4 linked regions of the Homo sapiens genome follow. The protein of the gene in region 1 interacts with the protein of each later gene in a biochemical or structural test. Each region holds a gene or a part of one and is shown on either strand. Other genes may lie near its edges.

Region 1 (3,556 bases):
GAAGCTGGAGGAGCAGCTCCTGGTGGGTGAAAGTCTAAGTCAGATGTGAATTCATGCATCGCATGGGTTCAAAGTGACTGTCATAGATGTATGGGTTGGAAGCTCACCTAAGAAAGACTCTTTACAAACAGACTCAACTTTTCCAGAAAATGCTTCTTGTACAGTCAAATGTGGTAGTATGGACATGAACTACATAATGTCACTAACACCAGGCACTTGTTTAATGGCATATGCTGTATTAGTCAAATTCCATCAGAGATGGAGACTCCATATGATGTAGTCTACATGGCATCAAGCCAAGTGCAAAGTCCTGAGACTGGACTCAGAGTTGAGCATCGAGATTTGATGGGGCAGGGTGATAGTGTTAGAAGAAACAGGACATTTCACTTCTTGGTCTTTTGGCTAAGATCAAGTGAGGAAACAGGACATCATTTTAAATGAAAAAAGCATTGAACCAACAGTCAGGGGATCTAGCACCAATTGTAGGCTTTGGGAAAATTTAAATTCTCTTATTCTCTTTTATAAATGTTATTGCTGCTGCTGATAATGATGATGACAATGAGGATGAAAATGATGTGATGAAACCTAACACATACTGTGTTTCCAAATTTCTCCCAGCCTTAAAAACTGTACTCTTATAATCAAATAAGTATATGTTCTCATTCCCAGAAGGTACACATTTTCATAATTTGTTTCATAACTTACTTGGTGGAAAACTAGGGCCTCAATAAATGGTAGATAAAATAATTACCACTTTCTAGAATAATGTCTGTAACATTATCTAGAATAACATCTGGAATACGTAGAAGGTGTGCTCCCTGCCTGTTTGTCAAAATAAAATAGTTGAAATTAGAAGGAGAAAACAAAACTATTTCATTTTGACAATGATCATTGAGCTGACGCATACATGAGTAGCAGAAGATGGGAATAGCAAATTTTACAGGTTTGAAGGTTGCTGTGGACTGAATTGTGTTCTTCCATTGCTGTGGACTGAATTGTGTTCTTCCACAAATCACATGTTGAAGCCTTAATGTCCAGTATGACTATACTTGGAATAAGGAAGAAATGCAGGTAAAATGAGGGACTCAGGCTGGAGCCTTGATCTGATAGGATTAGTATCCTAATCAGAGCAGACATCAGAGAGCTCACTCTCTCTGTTTGCCATGTAAGAACACATGCAGAAACCCAAAAAGAAAGCCCTTATCAGGAACTGAATCGACCAGCACCTTGATCTACTTCCCAGGCTCCAGAACTGTGAGAAATAAATTCCTATTGCTTAAGCCACCCTGTCTGTGGTATTTTGCTATGGCAGGCTCAGCTGGCTGTTCACAGGTCTAGTGCTGTACCATTCCTAGCCCTGTATATCAGTTGGCATATAGATTCAGCCACTGGAGACGGACAGGTTAAAAAAGATAGTTTATTTCTCTCTTGTTAAGTCTCAACCTATATGACAACTCCACTCCATGAAGTCATTAGGAATCCAGATTCCTGCTGTCTTATTCCCAAATCTAGGGAACTGCCTTCTTCTGTGTGGCCCAAGATGACTCACCAATATGTCTGTATTCTACCCAGTGAGAAGGAGAGACAGAGACAAGAGAGCTTAGCCCTGCCCTTCACGAATATGACTCAGAAGTTGCATGCTTTGGCTCACATTCCATTGGTCAGAATTTAGCTCCTTGGTCATATTCAGCAGCAAGGAAATGTAGTCTCTGTTCTCTGAGGATGGGTACTCACTAAAACTTGGGGATTCTACTGCTACAAGAGAAGGGGAGAATGGTTTTCAAGGGACAACCAGAAGTCTTTGCCACAACTTGATTTATGAAAAGTTAAGTTTTTAATATGATTTTTAAAAAAACTATTCAAGGACTATTTAATTTGAATAAAATACCAGATTTCTCCCCTATGCAAATATAGAAAAAATCTTTTCTCTAAACTTAAAGAATGAGAGGAGATAGAAATGAATCCTAAATGTTTTAGCTACTACTTTAAATCTTCTAGGGGTAAAAACATATAAGAAAGAACTTCTAGAACAATATATATATATAATCTAAATAGAACAAGCTGAAAAAAATTTACTGGGTTTTCCTATGATTACTCTAAGCACTTGTCACATCTCCCTCTAAAAACCTTTTCCTCTGAAATCACTTAAATTTAACCCTTTTTTCTAATTTCTAAGGGATAGAGTAAAATAAGGAAGGAGATGCCTTATTCTGATACTTGGTTTCTCTTCTACTACTATTCCCTTCTTAGGGAAAACTAAAGAAAAGCTATTTGCCTTAAGTAACTATTAAAACTAATATCAGAAAAGTTTGTAAATATGAAACAGATGGAGAATATCTAAACATTTATAGACACTTTCTAAAACTTGAGAAATAAGTAGTTTTAATGACTGTCAACCTAGGCCGCCATAACAAAATATCACAGACAGGCTGACTTAAACAGCAGAAATTTATGTCTTACAATCTGGAGGCTGAAAAGTCCCAGGCCAAGGTGATGGCAAATTCAGTTCCTGATGAGCGCTCTCTTCAAGACAAGGAGTGGGGGATAGGGTGGAGGTATCCGGTGTCTCAAAGAACACTAATGCTACTGGATCAGTGCACCAGCCTTATCACTTCATTTTACCCTAATTACTTTCTTACTCCAAATGCAGCCACCCTAGTGGTTTAGGGCTTCAACATATGAAATTTGAGTGACACAATAGCATAATTCATAGCAGTGAGAAAATGCCTTTTCTCTGGTTATGTGTGCCTTTGCCAATAACCACCCAGAGGAATCTAGAGGCAAAAATGCTGCAAGTTCAATCAGTTGATAGATTTACCCTCGGCTGAGTTGAAGCCACTACAAATAACATCTGAGTTATCTTAGATTCAAATGAGACGCATCATAAATTCAATGTCTTTAATGTTGGAAGCTTGGCCTCTCATCAAGTCTCTGCTTTAGGAAGAAATCAATTCAACATTGAGGCAGGCAGCTTTCTGACCTACATGATTGGAGCCCCTGGGGTGCCGTAATACTCACCCAGTTTTGTTTTCTAAGGAATTCATTGATTAAAAAAAAGAGAGAAAGAAAGAAAGAAGGAAGGAAGGAAGGAAGGAAAGAGAGAATGAAAAGAAAGAAAGAAAAAGAAAGAAAGAAAGAAGAAAGAAAGAAAGAAAGAAAGAAAGAAAGAAAGAAAGAAAGAAAGAAAGAAAGAAAGAAAGGGAAAGAAAAACTCTTCTACTTAACAGTTTCAGGTCCCCATTTCAGCTTCTCTTTTTTTCCTCAGAAAGCACGAGATTCCTAGATGTTTATCTGTTTCTCTTCAATGATTTCCTCTTAGTTACGAAAACTAAGTGCAACAAAAAGGTAAAATGCTGCTATTTCAAAGTACGTTTCTAAACAAGTTTGCTAAATGAGTTTAGAAATATTTCTAAATAAACTGTGGTAAAAATATAAAATATTCTTAAGCTGAATCTTTTCCTCTAAAAAATGAAGGCATTATAAACTATTGGCTTTTTTAGTCATAAAGCTCTGAAGTAAATAAATAAATAAATAAATAAATGAAACCAAAAAAATG
Region 2 (3,556 bases), on another chromosome or scaffold:
TGACAGTGTTTTGACTATTTCTAATAAGCCTAAGACATAGAAAACTTTTATAAGAACAAAATGAACTTCAAACTCATGCTCAAAAATAAGGGTCAAATGAGATCATTATGTATAATAGGACTCCTGTTTTCCCCTTGTTTTCTGGCTCAACCTTGAGAGTGGTCGTCTTAGACTACTGTGAAGAGTATTTATAAAGTATCTTTGAGAATCTTCAAGATGCTATGATGGCTTTTCATATTTAAAACTGTGTGATCTTTAAGGTTTCTGGAATTAGTCACCAAAGGTGTGTATAATAAAACTTCTCAATAAATGTAATCCAGCATATAAACAGAACCAAAGACAAAAACCACATGATTATCTCAATAGATGCAGAAAAGGCCTTTGACAAAATTCAACAGCCCTTCATGCTAAAAACTCTCAATAAATTAGGTATTGATGGGACGTATCTCAAAATAATAAGAGCTATCTATGACAAACCCACAGCCAATATCATACTGAATGGGCAAAAACTGGAAGCATTCCCTTTGAAAACTGGCACAAGACAGGGATGCCCTCTCTCACCACTCCTATTCAACATAGTGTTGGAAGTTCTGGCCAGGGCAATTAGGCAAGAGAAGGAAATAAAGGGTATTCAATTAGGAAAAGAGGAAGTCAAATTGTCCCTGTTTGCAGATGACGTGATTGTATATCTAGAAAACCCCATTGTCTCAGCCCAAAATCTCCTTAAGCTGATAAGCAACTTCAGCAAAGTCTCAGGATACAAAATCAATGCATAAAAATCACAAGCATTCTTATACACCAACAACAGACAGAGAGCCAAATCATGAGTGAACTCCCATTCACAATTGCTTCAAAGGAATAAAATACCTAGGAATCCAACTTACAAGGGATGTGAAGGACCTCTTCAAGGAGAACTACAAACCACTGCTCAACGAAATAAAAGAGGATACAAACAAATGCAAGAACATTCCATGCTCATGGGTAGGAAGAATCAATATCGTGAAAATGGCCATACTGCCCAAGGTAATTTACAGACTCAATGCCATCCCCATCAAGCTACCAATGCCTTTCTTCACAGAATTCGAAAAAACTACTTTAAAGTTCATATGGAACCAAAAGAGAGCCTGCATCACCAAGTCAATCCTAAGCCAAAAGAACAAAGCTGGAGGCATCACACTACCTGACTTCAAACTATACTACAAGGCTACAGTAACCAAAACAGCATGGGACTGGTACCAAAACAGAGATACAGATCAATGGAACAGAACAGAGCCCTCAGAAATAACGCCGCGTATCTACAACTATCTGATCTTTGACAAACCTGAGAAAAACAAGCAATGGGGAAAGGATTCCCTATTTAATAAATGGTGCTGGGACCACTGGCTAGCCATACATAGAAAGCTGAAACTGGATCCCTTCCTTACACCTTATACAAAAATCAATTCAAGATGGATTAAAGACTTAAACGTTAGACCTAAAACCATAAAAACCCTAGAAGAAAACCTAGGCGTTACCATTCAGGACACAGGCATGGGCAAGCACTTCATGTCTAAAACACCAAAAGCAATGGCAACAAAAGACAAAATTGACAAATGGGATCTAATTAAACTAAAGAGCTTCTGCACAGGAAAAGAAACTACCATCAGAGTGAACAGGCAACCTACAAAATGGGAGAAAATTTTCCCAACCTACTCATCTGACAAAGGGCTAATATCCAGAATCTACAATGAACTCAAACAAATTTACAAGAAAAAAACAAACAACCCCATCAAAAAGTGGGCGAAGGACATGGACAGACACTTATGCAGCCAAAAAACACATGAAAAAATGCTCACCATCACTGGCCATCAGAGAAATGCAAATCAAAACCACAATGAGATACCATCTCACACCAGTTAGAATGGCAATCATTAAAAAGTCAGGAAACAACAGGTGCTGGAGAGGATGTGGAGAAATAGGAACACTTTTACACTGTTGGTGGGACTGTAAACTAGTTCAACCATTCTGGAAGTCAGTGTGGCGATTCCTCAAGGATCTAGAACTAGAAATACCATTTGACCCAGCCATCCCATTACTGGGTATATACCCAAAGGACTATAAATCATGCTACTATAAAGACACATGCACACGTATGTTTATTGCGGCATTATTCATAATAGCAAAGACTTGGAACCAATCCAAATGTCCAACAATGATAGACTGGATTAAGAAAATGTGGCACATATACACCATGGAATACTATGCAGCCATAAAAAATGATGAGTTCATGTCCTTTGTAGGGACATGGATGAAATTGGAAATCATCATTCTCAGTAAACTATCGCAAGAACAAAAAACCAAACACCGCATATTCTCACTCATAGGTGGGAACTGAACAATGAGAACACATGGACACAGGAAGGGGAACATCACACTCTGGGGACTGTTGTGGGGTGGGGGGAGGGGGGAGGGATAGCACTGGGAGATATACCTAATGCTAGATGACGAGTTAATGGGTGCAGCACACCACCATGGCACATGTATACATATGTAACTAACCTGCACATTGTGCACATGTACCCTAAAACTTAAAAGTATAATAATAAGAGGGGAAAAAAAAAAACCTTAAAAAAATAAAAAAATAAAAAAACTTCTAAGGCAACTTGTAACTCCCCAAATAAATGCATAATAGGACTTGGTTCAACATTGTGAACATTAATTTTAAAAATTAATGTTTTTTCGGTGAAGTCCTACAGTGAAACCATATAGGGGAATGCGCTGCTTGAAATAAATATGTATATGCACATGTATTACCTCTACCTCCATGCTGAGGGAATCTTAATTCTTAGAGAAATGTTCTTTAGTTTACAAGTGAATTTTAACTACAATCCTATTCTCTACTAACACTTCAAAAAACAATCTACGTTGCCACATATTTAAACTGCTTTCCATTTCTAGAACAGAGAAATTAGAACATGAAGGTTTGACTACAACTGATTCCTTAGACTTCTATACTGCGCAACTACATAATGTGATTTTTTAGAAGTAATTTTTTATGATAGGCAAAATTCTCAATTTTAGCTGCTCTTCAAATAATGAAGACACAATCAACAAAGTAATACTTCATTTGTTAACTAAGCTCAAGATGTCAAGATGTCAATGTTAAATTGAAAACAGGATGCATAACATAGCCCATCTCCCTAAAATAACAATGTTTTTCTATTTTATCTTAGGATCATTTTGTAATATATAAAGAAAGTTAAATCACCTTAATTTTATAACAGAAAATTTTAGAAATTCAAAAATATATGGAAAATAAGCAATATACTCCCAAATAACCAATGGATCAAACAAGCAATCACAAGTGAAAGAAAATACTTTGAGAGGAGATGGTGCTGTTGAAGAGCACAGTTACAGACAGAGCTGACCAGGCTCTTCCAGAGTGCCAGTTGTCCAGCAGCATGTTCATTACCCTGAAGATGTATGATGGTTGAACTAAACCCATTCATTCTAAGAAAAGGTTCTGTGGAGGGCTTTAAGCCCTTGATAATTGTCTTAAAAGCTACTGATGGGAAAA
Region 3 (3,556 bases), on another chromosome or scaffold:
ACCATCTCAGATTTTTGTGTTTTTTTTTTTTTTTTGAGATGGAGTCTCGCTCTGTTACCCAGGCTGAAGTTCAATGGCACGATCTCGGCTCACTGGAACCTCCACCTCTGGGTTCAAGCAATTCTCCTGCCTCAGCCTCCTGAGTAGCTGGGATTACAGGTGCACGCCACCACGCCCGGCTAATTTTTGTATTTTTAGTAGAGATGGGGTTTCACCATGTTGGTCAGCCTGGTCTTGAACTCTTGACCTCGTGATCCGCCCGCCTCGGCCTCCCAAAGTGCTGAGATTACAGGCATCAGCCACCGCACCTGGCCAGATTTTTGTTTTAAATGGAATGGCCATGACATTCATAGGAGCCAGATGTTCAGTCAGTACCAATTGCTACCATATGAGAAGACAGATGAACTAAAACATCAAGCTTTTCCAAAAGAATAAACACATATGGACCTAACGTAAGCAAAGGGAGTGAGAATTCTAAAGAAAGTTGGGAAAAATCTCCCTCTTGATTTGAGTCATATATTCTAGAAAGTTAGTTCAGAAAAGTTTCCCCTACTCTATACCTAGAAATCACATATTCTAAAGTCAGAAGGGACCTAGAAATTATGTAGCTTGCTTTCTCACGTATGAATAAAAAAATTGAGCGCAGAGAATTATAGCGACCTGTTCCCAATCACACAGCGATTTAGTGAGGACTGGAGCCCTCAGGCCTGAGTTGGTGGATTATTTTCTGCACCACATTGCATCTGTGATGCTCTGCACACATTGACTTTTGCCTGCCTTGTAAACATCTGCAGTGTTATCAGAAATTAGCTGTTGACAGCAAGGCCATGTGTCAACACCTGAGAAACTTGCCTTCACATCTAGCACGTGGAGTTCTACCCGCACCAAGCTCTCCTCCTCGGAAAACATTTCGATCCTGTTGACGTGGCTAAAGTCGGCTAAAAGAGCCACCAGATTGGTTTTGGTGTTGATGACATGGCTTATGCCATACCGGGGCCCAACCAGGAGAGTCACTTCCGAGCGCTTTTCTGCCTGCTGAGAAAGAGAAGTTGACAACATAAAAATACTGAACCTCTGAAATGCTATGCCAACTTGAACCTATGATCCTATTTTTATAAGATTATATTTTCTTTAGAAAGTGTTTCTGGGTCATACTGTACTAAATCATCCAATTAGAAGAACCAGATACATGACTGAATTGAGGCTCTGATAAATCATGAGTAATTAGAAAGTAAATGTTATAGCACAGTATGTTCATAATCATAAGATCCTTTTAGAAATGAGGTTTGTTTTTTTCTTTTTGGTTTTCCTTTTTTCACTGTGAAAGCAACTTCTGGCTCAATGATTTAAAAGAAGGCCATTGTTAGAATCCTTTGATTCTCTCGGTTCTTCACATTTCTTTTTCTAGGGCATTCTGCAGTGGTGTTATCTAGTTTAACATTTCTTCTGATATTTTCAGACTGTTGTGAAGTTGGTTAGAAATGAAGGCTGGAGAAGATTCACAGCTGATTTGCTTTTGTCATCAGAGGCGGAATGAGCTGCTGTGGCTTCCAAGAGAAAGCAAAAAAAAAAAAAAAAAAGAAATTACCACTAATGTTGCCTTGAACACACGGCCCCCATACAATCGTAGGTCACTGAGGAACTTGAGATAATGGACCTTGGCTTGTAGTGCAGAGAGCTGAGGAGAGAAAAGAAACCTCAGGTGTTAACTCTATTGGGTATGACTCCATTTCAGCTGGAGACTAGCAGAAAACAAGTGTAAGATAGAAGGATGATTTTACGGCTGAAAAGTTGAGATGTGACAAAGACTATTCATTAGGAATAAAATTGCTACATATTTGGTTTCCTGATGAAGGACTGGAACATAAAATCAAGATTCAAATCTTATTTATTAGGGGGTCAATGTATGGGGCACTCATGGGTATAGATATGCTGGGCCAGGGCACTCAGCAAGTGAGAACAAGACCATAAAATGTTCCATTGAACATCTGCTCACTGGGAGATTTCAAGAGGTGAGTGGGCCTTCTACTTGCAATTAGGGACAAAGGTGAGGTGTCTACCTATATTCCCATTGCACAAGAGACTCACCTGAATGCAGACTTTGTGGGAATCATTTTGAATACGCACCTGCAATCTAGGCAAAGCCTTCTAAACAGGCCCTTTACACTTCCCCTCTCAAGTTTCTTCCAGTCCTTGCAAGTTTTCGGGGGAAATGAACTTTCTGAGAGCCAATCATTGTGGAAATGTTTGAACTTGCTAAATAAGGCTCTGTTTTATTAATTCAACTTGGAAAATCTGTTGAGTTTCACAAGTGATTTATAAATGAAATTTTATCCAGATAAAAGTTATCTTTACAAAGACTTAAAAATGTAGGATCCCATATCACTAAAAAGAGTATTTGATTTAAAAAAAAAAAAGGTCCATGTTTCATACTGAATGTGCCAGGGATGTTTATTAAGGTTGAAATTTTCCAACAAGGTGTAGACCACCATTAAGTGGCAATGACCATAAAATTCTATTTTCACTTGCAGATGGCTTGCCAACTTATTTGTTAACTATACATAAAGGCACTGCTCTTTATGTAATTGTTACTTAGCACCATTCATCCATCCTACTTCTTTCAAAAATGCAAAGCATTTGCAAATTGTTTTGAAAGCAAACTATTCACTCTTGGCTAGAAAAACAACCTTTAAAGGACAGTGATGGATAAATGGATAGGTTGATTGATCTTATAGCAGTTATCCAAATTATTACGAGTGGGCCAGGCTTGAAAAAAAAATCACAAGTCAATTATAGAAATTAGCTTCCAGCAAATCAGAACTGAAGTTAAAAAGAACTTGACCCACATCATCTTGCTACATCTCTGTAAGCTGAATGCTCACTGTGATCAAAGACATCCTTCCCATGAAATTGGGAAGTGAGTTAAAGGTGGCTGATAGTGTGTTGAAACTGATTATACTTAAAAAAAAAAATTGTCGTGGGGTGAGGAGGGGATAGAAATAAATGTACCTTACCCAGTAAAAATGACTTAAAAAAATCAGATACTAAGACAAAATGGTTCTCCACGTAAACAGTGATTTGTATTAGAGTCACACAAATTTCTCCAGCTAATATCAATTGGAAAGTGTTCTTCAGTTATAAGACTGCTTCCAATTTTATAGATCCAGTATTTTAAGGCTCCTTCTCTTTCTGGTTCCTGGAATCCTTTGCTTTTTATTACCTATAAACTATACCTCTCTTTTCTGACCAACAGTATATTTTAAAATTTCCTTTGTGTTTCTCTTACTTAATGAAAACAAAAACAAAAGCATAAAAAGATTTTAACACTAATGATGGTGAATGACAGCAATAATTTTATCTTCCCTCCAAAGGTAGGATTGAATCCATTGTTTGTCAATAGGGGTGATTTTGTTCCCGGGAGCACATTTGGCAATGTCTGGAGACATTTTTGTTTGTCACGATCACGGGAGGGTGCTACTGGCATCTTGTGGGTAGAGACCAGGGGTGCCGCTAAACATCCCAGAATACACAGGATGTTCCCCGTAACTCCCTAACA
Region 4 (3,556 bases), on another chromosome or scaffold:
AGGCATCATATGCTCCCACAAGAAGAACAAGTAAAAGGAGACTAAAATCTCACAAATATCCCTTTATCTGCAGTTCTCTATTTCCCTCCAATCCAGGGCTGGCAGACCTGGCCCAGACACCTATCCAGGGCTGATATTCAGTGGATTGGGTGGGGAGGGGAAAGTTGGTGGGGGAGGCAATTTAGCAGGCAGAGGCCCTGGCCATGACTCTCCCATCAACCTGTGGACTCCTCACTTAGTTTCCTTATACCAGCTGCAACAGGGCTCCAGCTGGCATCAAAGTGCTGTGGTAGCTCTTGCCATACTCTGGCACAGGTGTGACCTTCACTGAGATGATTCCCAAGTGCTCAGAAGAGTTTTCAAACTGATTCTACCAGGGAAGTTGAAAGATGTTTCCTCACTCTTACCAGCTCTCAGAAGCCTTGGGGGACTTGAAACAGACCAGACACAGGCATCGCCTGCCTCCGGCCTCCCTGTTGGGGGATGTAATACTCAGCACCCCAGCTTGGCTATCATCTCAACTGCATTCTGCAGCCAGATTCCTCATTGCTCACTCTTTCAGGTCATGGTACTGAAGGCCCCTGTGCGCATCTACTTTACTTGGAAAGGATAACTGATTATAATGCCCAATGTTATCTTAGCTCCAGAAACTCTGCCACCTTAAGGTCCTGAGGGCATGAGGCAAAGAAAGTGTAAGTATTGAGGCTAAGAGGAAGGAGCGAGTGAGACAAAAACAAGTCAAGAAAATCTACTTGGTGGTTTATCAGCCACACCGATGCCTTGAGAGCCTTTTGGATTTGACCCTCCTCTCTATGCCCACTGCCACCACCCTTATCACCTCTCACTTAGATTGCTGTAGTATCTTATAGGCTGGTCTCAAGTCTCTCCCTATTCCAATCAATTCTGCTTCCAACTGCATAGCTAACCATCCTGAATCACTATGCATAATTGTCCGACAGCCCCCAAGGTTTACCCAAGTCCAAACTTCTTCTGACATCAGAGACTCTTCAAATCTGGGAGTCCCATACCCAGCCAATCATTTTTTCCCCACTGTGCCTGCATATACACCCTCTCCTCTAGTCAGACTTCTTTCTGACCCTTTCTTGATAACACCCTGACCATTTCCATCTCCAGCCTTTTCCCTATGCTGTGCCTCCCCCTCAGAAGCCTGTTCCTTTTCTAGTCAACAATCTCAATCTCACATGTTACTCAAAACATAACGCAGGTTCAACTTCTTCTGGGAAGACTTCTCCCCTCATTCCAGCCCACACTCTCATTCTCTCTGTGCTTTGAACCCCTACAGTGCTTACTGTTTAGAGCAAAAAAATGTGGCACATAATTGTTTTCCATCTTGTATTATTCTTAGTTACTTCATATGAATGAGTATTATTTTTCTGTTAAATTACGGATTTCCAGAGAGCAGGGCCTTTGCTTTCCCCTTCTCACCATAACATTAGTACAGGGCTAGATCCTGGAGTGGTCAATAGACTTCTCTTCCCATGCCTTAACTCCAGTATGAAGGAAGGATGAGATAAGTGAAGCCCGCTAAGGATCTCCGCTGTTCATTCCCTCACCTTTCTCAAAAGATGTTCCAGACGGCAGAGGAGCTGAGGCTGCCGAGTGAGACATAGGCAGCCAATCAGCTGTCAGATCCTAGCTTTCAGAACACTCCCACCTCCTAAGGTTTTCTGGGCAATCAATAACGCTACTTAAGTGATCAATCTGAGGCACAATGGGCTGTAGGGGCCAGTGTTTGATTAACTTGAGAGAATAAATGTACGCTGGAAGAGAAAGAGCAGGGAGGGGGGAGCAGAAGAAAAAGCAAGAAGAAAGATGAGCTAGGGGAAGGAAGAGAGAGAAAAGCCTTTATGAAGGAGGGTATGATGGGATGGAGCTGAGAGTAGTTCTCACCTAATCCAATTCAACGAGTTAAGCAAGTTCCTACTGAGGTGTCGAAATAATCTTGGGGCTTTGTCAGAGTCCAGTGAATATCCCAGGGCTTTTAGGCAATTTTTGACTTTGGCAAGAACACTGTTGCCATGGTCCACTGAGGGTCCACACAGCCTCCATATTGGGTGGAAGAGTGGGTGTGGGATAGAGACTTCAGCCAATATCAAGGAAAGACATGGATCTTGAGCTATGCTCATTGGCTGTGTCTAGAGAAATCCCAGGTTCTGGCATCCTACACTCTCCTACCCAAGCCTGATGACTCAGAAACCCATGATGATATGGGACAGTAGGCTCATCTGCAAGGGAGATATCAGCATTACCTTCTCTCTATCCAGAATTGTATATACTATCCTCCCTCTCAAGGCCCTGGAGCTGGAAATTTAACTATTTGCAGTTAACAAAAAATACGGAGTCCCTTTCCAAATGTTTTCCAAACATTATCAAATGTTTAGCTATACCACGAATCAAATTTTTTTCTGGGAAAGATAGTATTATCTGGAAAAAAAAAACAGAGCAGATGGCCTCTTACTGTGAGAAAGTGAGAAAGTTCCTCCTTTAATCTAACCATGATACCTGCTGCTCTCATTAAAAACTCATCCTTCTCATAGGATGACATTGGTACCCTCCTGGTTATGCAGGCTCAAAGCCTTAGAATCATCTTTGACTCTTCCTTCTTCCTCACCCCACGCATTCAATTGGTAGGTAAATCAGGTTTCCTCTACCTCCAAATACATTCACCCATCTTCTTTCTGTCCCCAACCAGCTATGGTAACAACCGGCTAACTGGTCTTCCTGCCTCCAGAATGATCTTGTTTTAATCATTATGCCAAAGCGAGAAAAAAAGAAAAATGAGCTTGAATCTAATCAAGCCCAGAGCTAACTTCCATTTATAGAAAATATAGGGGATAGGTGAACAAGCTAACTGGCAATAAGAGGACAAACCAGAATGTGGGAATTGTGCAGAGCAAACAACCTGATTTCTGTGACAAGTCAAAGAGAGAGGGCTGTTGAAAGGGCCTTTAGAGACATAACAACCAAATGTCACGTGTGGAACTTTTTTGGAACGTCCGTCAAACAAGCCAACTGTAAAACATGTTTTGAGACAATTGAGGGCATATGATTATGGACAGGGTAATGGATAATACAAAGGCATTATTGTTACTTTTGTTAGGTGTATTAGCAGTTCTGTAGTTATGTTAGAAAATGTCCAGTTTTTAAGAAATGCATAGAGAAATATTAGGAATAAAATGATGTGATCGATGTTTGGCATGATAGGTGAAGCAAACATGGCAAAGTCCTGATAACTAGTTAATGTGGATAATGAGTATGTGGGGGTTACTATACTATTTTCTCTAATTTTTTTGAGGTTGAAAATATTTATAAGAAAAAGTAAAGACAGGCTGGGCACAGTGGCTCATGCCTGTCATCCCAGTGCTTTGGGAGGCTGAAGTGGGAGGATTGCTTGAGCCCAGGAATTGGAGACCAGGTTAGGCAACACAACAAGACCCTGTCTCTATGAAACACTAAAAATTAGCTAGCAACTCGAGAGGCTAAGGTGGGAGGATCACTTGAGCCCAGGAGTTTGAGGCTACAGTGAGCCATGATC

The links. Proteins that work in one complex are often made in the same cells at the same time.
Region 2: the proteins of PLEKHG7 (region 1) and PALS2 interact in a test that uses a peptide from one of them, tested with the Homo sapiens proteins (one large-scale study listed by IntAct).
Region 3: the proteins of PLEKHG7 (region 1) and FRMPD4 interact in a test that uses a peptide from one of them, tested with the Homo sapiens proteins (one large-scale study listed by IntAct).
Region 4: the proteins of PLEKHG7 (region 1) and FRMPD3 interact in a test that uses a peptide from one of them, tested with the Homo sapiens proteins (one large-scale study listed by IntAct).

The regions. Positions count from the first base shown.
Region 1 is NC_000012.12:92,758,487-92,762,042, forward strand, and holds part of PLEKHG7 (pleckstrin homology domain-containing family G member 7), read left to right. Parts: intron 1-3,265; coding exon 3,266-3,345; intron 3,346-3,556.
Region 2 is NC_000007.14:24,674,427-24,677,982, reverse strand, and holds part of PALS2 (protein PALS2), read right to left. Parts: intron 1-3,556.
Region 3 is NC_000023.11:12,704,948-12,708,503, reverse strand, and holds part of FRMPD4 (FERM and PDZ domain-containing protein 4), read right to left. Parts: intron 1,679-3,556; coding exon 1,589-1,678; intron 1,036-1,588; coding exon 853-1,035; intron 1-852. UniProt on the Homo sapiens protein: Positive regulator of dendritic spine morphogenesis and density. Required for the maintenance of excitatory synaptic transmission. Binds phosphatidylinositol 4,5-bisphosphate.
Region 4 is NC_000023.11:107,456,127-107,459,682, reverse strand, and holds part of FRMPD3 (FERM and PDZ domain-containing protein 3), read right to left. Parts: intron 1-3,556.